Linked DNA regions of Homo sapiens: all the other regions are linked to region 2. Evidence: fine-mapped expression QTL. A gene starts in region 2. Each other region holds a variant in brackets. All regions are shown on one strand. Distances are from middle to middle. Region 1 overlaps DNAH8 (dynein axonemal heavy chain 8). Region 2 holds the start of DNAH8 (dynein axonemal heavy chain 8). Region 3 overlaps DNAH8 (dynein axonemal heavy chain 8).

Region 1 (2,500 bases), 290 kb before region 2:
CATCAATGTCTGCCCAGTTGCCCAACTGAGAACCCTCAGAGATGGCTTCCTCCTTGCTGTGGCTCCCCAGACCTTCTTAGTTTCCAAGCTCTAGTTCCAAATCATTTCCAGCATCCCCTCCCCGTGACCCACCGTCATCCCCACTGCCTTCAGTTCTGCCCCCTAACTTCCTGATCATCCTCTGTGTGCGGCACTGCCATCACCTCCTAACACATCCTCCTGCCTCCAACCACTGTTCCAAGGTAAGTTTTGACATTTGAAAAGTGATTATTAAATGTATTCGAAGACTCCCCATAACCTTCAGGATAAAATCTGAAGTCTTTCACATGGCATACAAACCTTTTTCATCACTAAGCCTTTTTCTATCTCCAGCTTCTGCTCTTGCTTCCTTCTTTCTTCTTCCCACACTCTACCCTGTGCTGTGAGTTACCTGAAGCTCATCAAGCATTCCATGACTCCCCTCATATTTCTTTGACTGTTCCCAAGTTACCTCCACAGCCTGGAATGCTCTGCCCTCATTTTTTCATCGATTATAGCTCATTCCTAACTAGCTATTAATATTAAGCTCAGCTTAGATGTCTTCACCTCTAGACAGCCTTCCCTAGACTTTCTCCCTATGTGTGCGCATAGCTCTCAGTGCTTGCTTTTATTGTTGTACTTGTCATTCTGTACATGATGACATGCTTGTTTATCTTCATTCCAACTTCAGCCTGAATTATGTGATGGCAGGAAAAGGCTTAAATCTCTGTATGCAAAATGCTAATTCCCATCAACTCATGCAAGCAGAAATGGCCATGTAGAAGGTAGAGTAGGTTAAGTAGATTTAAATAAATGATTAAATAACCGTATTCCAATTTAAAATATTGCCCCAAACTCTTTTGGCAAAACCTTCAAAAGCCACACTCTGCATCGGCCACTCCGCTCTTTAAGCACCCCCCTCCCTCATGCTTTAGGCATACTGGACCTGGTTCCCAGAACTCCCCACACACATTCATGTTTGCATTCCCTTCCTTGGATTGTTCCTTGGTGTGTGCATCCCAGTCTAAGTTCTTGGTCCTTACCGCTCATTATGTTCCTCTTCTTTGTACTCTGTCCTTGACCCCAGTCCTGCAGTCACTTCCTTCCCACCTCATCTCCAATCTGAGAAACTCCTGCACATCCTTTAAGACAGCGGTTCCCAACCTTTTTGGCACCAGGGACTGGTTTTGTGGAAGACATTTTTCCATAGACTGGAGGGGAGGCGGC[G/A]GAAAAGTTTCGGGATGATTCAAACACATTACTTTTATTGGGCACTTTATTTCCACTATTATTACATTGTAATATATAATGAAGTAATTATACAACTCACCATCATGTAAAATCTGTGGGAGCCCTGAGCTTGTTTTCCTGAAACTAGACGGTCCCATCTGGGGGTGATGGAAGACAGTGACAGATCATCAGGCATTAAATTCTCATAAGGAGTGTGTAACCTAGGTCCCTGGCATGCGCAGTTCACGGTAGGGTTCTCGCTCCTATGAGAATCTAATGCCGCCACTGATCTGACGGGAAGCAGAGCTCAGGCGGTAGTGCTCCCTCACCTGCTGCTCACCTCCTGCTGTGTGGCCCAGTTTTAACAGGCCACGGACTGGTATTGGCTTGTGGCCCAGGGGTAGTGGACCCCTGCTTTAAGGCACAACTTAAATGGAGCCTGTCTCACTAGCTTTCTTTGATCCCTAAATTGGAATTGATTGCTCCTCCACCTGTGTTATCATAGCAATGTATACATACCCTGATTTTAGAGTTTACCATATTGTACCTCATCAGCATTTGCCATTCATCATCTTCCCCAACAGATGATGCGCTCCAAGAGCACGGACTGCATCTTACTCATCTTTGTATCCCCAGGTTAGCCAGACAGTAAGTTCTCAACAAATGTTTGTTTGTTGAATTGAGGCCAATTGGCTTGCATTTTATTAAACCTCAAATACAAAGGACAGCAATTCTTCAATATTTAAAGGACATGAAAATTTACTTATTCCTTCTTATGGTAAAAACATAGTATATTGTTATTATTGTTTTTTTATTTCCTGGCACCTTTCAATGAATGTGTGTGTGTGTGTTTGTGTGTGTGTGTGTATAAATGCCTTATTACAACTTTTGTATTCATTTCTAATAATGAATTAGGAACATTCATTTCTAATTATTATATATCTATTATATAATATGACAATACAATATAATAATAAATACATCTATAGATATTAGAAATATCTATCTTTCTATCTATCTCTTCTTGAGTCTTTGACAATTGATAAGTTCATTTGTTTTCATAGGATATTTTCACAGGATTCCCCCTCTCAGAGTTACTTGTATTTTTCTTATACTTTATATGACTTTTAAAAACTGTGATCATGCCCTACTTCAAAATTCAGGAATGGGTTGCAAATGCCTTTTGTGCCATATATAAATAGTCCTCAAAACACAGGAGAATCAGAAAGATATAATTTGAGAGTGAAGTAAAACT
Region 2 (2,671 bases):
TATGCTGCCCAGGCTGGATGCAATCATTTTCAATTCCCACCATCCCTTCTTAAGTTAAATTTTAAGGATTCAGTGAACTTCTGCAAAGTCAACAAGAAATGCATCCTGGTTATTTTCAGGAGCATTTCCAGGTGTTGAACTCCTCCCCTCCTAGGAATACTACAGTAAGTGAGCAAGTTGCATACCTGTGTGCTGGGTACAGCCAATTCAACCACACCCTTTTCTCTTGCACCCATTTCTGTAACCCTATCCCAAATGCATTAGTTCATTCAGCAATATTGAACGTCTTCTGCATGTCTGGCCACTGTGGCTACATAAAAGACTAAGGACTTCTCCAAAGCAAAATGCACAATCAAATTGGTGTGACAGACTATTGAATACAACACAAGATGGTCAATGTCAATGACAGGTGAATTAACGAAGGGCTAAGAGAGCTTAGCAGGCAGCAAAACTTCTGAAAAACAAAAAAAGAAAGAAAGAAAACTTGACGGAGAAGGTACCACCCGAGTCGGGTCTAAAGAAGAGTTGTCAGGAGAGGATGGGAGAGAGAAACATTATAGGCAGAAGGTGGGAACAGTGGCGTACAAAAGCAGAGAAGCAAAAAGAGGCACAACTATCTTGGGAAAAGTGGTAAATTCAGTGATGAGACTTTTGGGCTAGAGGGGAATGAGAAGGGTAGAGGAACGGGAAATAAGCCGGAGGGAGAGGCATTTTTTTTGTTTTATTTTTGAATTTTTAAAAATATATAGGTATATGGCCGGGCGTGGTGGCTCATGCCTGTAATCCCAGCACTTTGGGAGGCCGAGGTGGGCGGATCACAAGGTCAGGAGATCGAGACCATCTTGGCTAACACTGTGAAACCCCGTCTCCACTGAAAATACCAAAAAAAATTAGCCGGGCGTGATGGCGGGTGCCTGTAGCCCCAGCTACTCGGGAGGCTGAGGCAGGAGAATGGCTTGAACCAGGGAGGCAGAAATTGCAGTGAGCCGAGATCGCACCACTGCACTCCAGCCTGGGCGGCAGAGTGAGACTCCGTCTCAAAAAAAAAAAAAAAATATATATATATATATATATATATATATATATATATTTATTTATTTATTTATTTATTTTAATAGCTTTTCGGGTACAGGTGGTTTTTTTACATGGATGCATTGGATAGTGGTGAAGTCTGAGACTTCAGGGTCATCCAGGTAGCATACATTGCAAGCGATATGTAGTTGTTTCATCCCTCACCCCCCTCCCACCCTTCCCCTTCTGAGTCTCCGAAGTCCACTATACCCCTCTGGATGCCTTTGCGTAGCAATAGCTTAGCTCCTACTCATAGGTGAGAACGTGCGGTATTTGGTTTTCTAGTCTCAAAACGGGGAGTGGGTGTGAAGTCACTTAGATGTCCAGTGTAGAGACTGACAAAGGGTAGTGACTCAGCTGGGGTTTTGAAGCAGGGGTTCCCTGGGTTCAACTAACAGAGGTGGAGGACTGAACTGTAGCGTGGATTCCAGTCCCCTAAAAAGAAGGAAAGTGGGCGGGGAACCCGGCTGCATCAGGGCCTCCCGGACAGGGGCCGGGCGCTCACAGCGCGCTCCGACCAAGTACTCACCAGCCGCTCTCTGGGCCCCGATGCCCCGACCACTCAGCCCACTGAGGCCGGCCCCAGCGGTTGCGCTGCCCCGGGGGAGCTGCTCCGGCCTCCGCGGCCCGGAACGAGGCTGACGGTTGGGAGTCCGAGACAGGCTCGCTCGGGGGCGAGGGCTCCGCAGTGCGCAGCTCCCTACGGGGAGCGACTGGAGGGGCACGGGCAGCCCCCGCGCTCCCCAATAAAGGATGCACCCACCGAGCCCGAGGACTGAAACATTGTTTAGGGGACCCCAGGCACTGAAGGGCGGGTTCCTGGAGATGGACATTTGGAGTGCGGTGCCAGGGGCTTGGGAGGATTCCCGCGTATACGTGGTAATACGGAAATATATAAAATAATGTTTTCTATGACCTTTACAGTTTCTGAAGTTACTTAGTGTTTTCCTTGAGAACCTAAAAAGTGTTTCCTGGTGAGTCAGTGTGTTCAGAAACCTGTGACTGATGAGAGAGAAAGATTCTGGGGGAAAACTGACTTCTCTCCCAAGTCCACCCCCTCCCCTCTCTAGTACGGTTCTGCTTTTGCTGTGACTGCCTGACATGATGTGAGCGGTCCGTTTTTAGTTGGGTGTGTTAACCAAAGAAAAAAAAATCAGTCATTTAAATAATTAATATTAGTTTTATTCAGATGTCTTACTAAGGATTGCAATCCGGAGAGTCTTTCAGAGACTTTCTGTGAGACTGCTCCAAAGCTTAGGTACAGGTGGTGGCATGTGATGGGAAGTGGCATCAGATGTGCTCAGCAGTTACATCAAATGAGCTCAGCAGTTACATTAGAGCAAAATCTCATCAAGGGTGGGGTTCAAGGGTACATCTGGTTATAGATTGTAGAGGCATAATCATTAATCCTATCAGCTATTATCTTATTATGTACAGGAAGAGGCATGAGTTAGGATCCTGGAACTTTTGCAAGAAAAGATTCATGCAAGAGATGTTATCATCTTCAGGGGCATTCTTCCAGGGGCTGCACTTAGTCACTGAGTTAGGGGATTTGTGAAATGTAGCTGCCAAAGAATTCTCTGACATTCTGCTGGCAAGC
Region 3 (2,500 bases), 97 kb before region 2:
CTGCTTTCGCCCATAAAGGCTGCAATGAGATGGACATTTAGCTGATGAACCTTACCCTAAAATTTCATTGTTAGTTTATTATGCTACAAAATTCAGTCCGAACAATAAAGATCATTTTTAAAAGGCCAAATTACACAAAGAGAATATTACTTATAACAGAACCCTAAATTGCAGAGAACTAAGAAAATACAATGACCCAATAGTCTTAGAAGTAAAATAGTAATCTCATATACATTTTCTACTATTTTAATGTTGTTCTTTCTCAGTAATAACCTTTAACAATGTTTACTAAAGGCATTCTTTGTTCCCAGCCCTGCAACAGATACAAGATGAGATCACCAGCATATACTTTTATATGCTTCTTTATCTATATTTTCACAAGATTAAACAGGAAGTTTCTGGTCCATGCTTTCCAAAAACCGCGTTGTTAAACAATATCACTCATGCACAGACAGCAGCACAGACGCCTGAGTCCAGTTATGAAGGACACATGCAGAGCTGCAAATTAGTCTGGCTAGCATAGCTCCCTCTGTCTTAACCTCCACCCCTATCCCAGGCAAAATTATAATAAATGTAAACTGTCCATTCTCTTTTTCTCTGGGAGTGCAAGAAATACCGTCATTACTGAAAACTTACACCTCCATTTCTAAATACAAGCAGATGGGGGGTGGGAGGGGATCACAAGAAACATAGAGGCCACAGTTCAAAAGTGAAGACCCAACTTTTAGCACTCAGGGCCAATGGTTCCCAGATAAACGTATTATTGGAAAGGACTGAACAAAAAGAAAGCAAGCAAACAAAACCCCTCAATTCATAGTGTCCCAGTGAAATTCAAGATGTTGCAATAAAATTAGTGTGGGCATTGATTCAAAGTGTGTAATTTGAGAATAAGAAAGAGTTTTCATAAAGTATAAAGGAACAGTTGAATAATAAAGGCAGTGAACAGTGCACTAGATCATTTGGTACCTTATATAGCAAATTAGAGAATCAGCTGAAGGTATTCTCCAAAATTTCAGGTGCAAAATACAAAGAGAGAGAAAATACTTAGAGAAAAGGTAAGAATAAGTAACATTTATTGAATGTTTTAATGTATGCCAGC[C/T]ACTTTCCATAGATTACCAGTTCATGTTCACATTAATTCTGTGAGGCAGACCCTACGATTATTATTCTTTCCATATTGTAGATAAGGAAACCAAGGTAGGGAGAGGCTAAGTAATTTCCAGAGAGTCACTCCGCTCAGAGATGCTTACTACCTAGATACGGCACGTGAATACTGTGTAGATATGGGAAATTAAAGCAAAGCACTCCTTTAACCTTAAGAATAGGCTTTTTTTTTTCATCTTCAAGAGATTCTCTAGGTGCCTGACAGGATTAATGGGGGGAAATCCACCTGCATCTAAACATACAATTTGTGAATTTCAAGAATAAAAGAGAAATCCTGTCAGCATCAAAACAAATACAAGTTGTTAGTTGGAAAGGAAAATCGGATTCGCAGCAGAACTCTCCTCTAAAAACTGAAACCAAAGAAGCCAATGGAGCAGCCTCTGTAGAGCGTGACAGAAAGGGATTCTGATCCCAGAAGACCAAGCTAGCGTTCGTGTGTGGGCATAAGAGAAAGACATTTTAGACAAGTAAGGGTTTTTAGTACTATCCTCATGTATGCCTCCTCAAAAATTGCTAAATTGCCGCAGAACTTGTAAATCAATGTAGCATAGTGAGTTCATACTTCAAAAAAGCTTCTTTTTGCCAAACTCATCACAATCATGGATGGGAGATAAAGGACATGAGAATGCTCAAATACAAGGTAAGCATCTCCATGAAGTAGAAATGGAGAGAAACTCAAGGACAGCCTAGCCAGGGTTCCGGGCTGGAAAGAGGCAGTGACCGTGGGGAGGTTGGCTCTGGTGGAATATAGAGGATGGACAGGACTCAATGAGGGATGGGGCCTCGGCCAGCCTCACTACTTAAGGCCAAAAACTAAGATGATGCTCTCCCATCTGTCTTGCAGATGATGCTGCAAGACAAAATGCGTCAACTTACTTCCTGCAGCTATGGCTTTTCCAGGAGATGCAGACCTGGGGCAAAAGAAGCACATCCACAAATTCCCTGATAAGTAACTAAGTTAGGCTACCCGTGTGCTCCCTAGCCAAACCTGCCATACCCCCAGTATCTCTCCAGGGGCCAGTAACTGTGAAGAAATAAGACCTGGTTCTGTACTCAGGGTTCCAAGTGTCATTTAGAGGCAAAAGTGAAACTCATAGATAGGGAGAGAGAGAAGGAAAAAGAAACACAAAAACAAAGCTCTCGCTCAAAGAGAGCCTGCACATTAAAACCCAAGTATGCGTGAATATGTCTAAGGGTAAGAAAGAGAGCTAACGAAATCCAAAAACGAAACAGAAACTCACTCTAGATAAAAATTAATGTCCAGATAACAAGCTCTAAAGTAAGGGAAAATGTTCAGTGATATATGAAGACTCTTCCAAAAAAATAAAAAATTTGCTAA

What was found. PIP is the estimated chance that this variant, and not a neighbour inherited with it, causes the effect.
Region 1: its variant is the best candidate, but not a certain one, in a credible set for the expression of DNAH8 in testis (GTEx, PIP 0.77).
Region 3: its variant is the best candidate, but not a certain one, in a credible set for the expression of DNAH8 in sun-exposed skin (GTEx, PIP 0.59).

Annotation. Positions count from the first base shown.
Region 1 is chr6:38,999,531-39,002,030 of GRCh38, reverse strand. All of the region lies in intron 88 of DNAH8 (dynein axonemal heavy chain 8), which reads right to left. Among named protein-coding and RNA genes, the nearest start is that of DNAH8-AS1, 48 kb to the right of the region's middle. The variant G/A (reference allele first, on the strand shown) is at 1,246.
Region 2 is chr6:38,714,345-38,717,015 of GRCh38, reverse strand. It overlaps DNAH8 (dynein axonemal heavy chain 8), which reads right to left and starts at 1,705. Exons shown (of 93, transcript NM_001206927.2): 1 at 1,601-1,705. DNAH8-DT (DNAH8 divergent transcript) reads left to right here and starts at 1,801. Exons shown (of 2, transcript NR_186581.1): 1 at 1,801-1,950. RefSeq lists a silencer at 1,669-1,718.
Region 3 is chr6:38,811,573-38,814,072 of GRCh38, reverse strand. DNAH8 (dynein axonemal heavy chain 8) reads right to left here. Exons shown (of 93, transcript NM_001206927.2): 25 at 1-19. Among named protein-coding and RNA genes, the nearest start is that of DNAH8, 98 kb to the right of the region's middle. The variant C/T (reference allele first, on the strand shown) is at 1,100.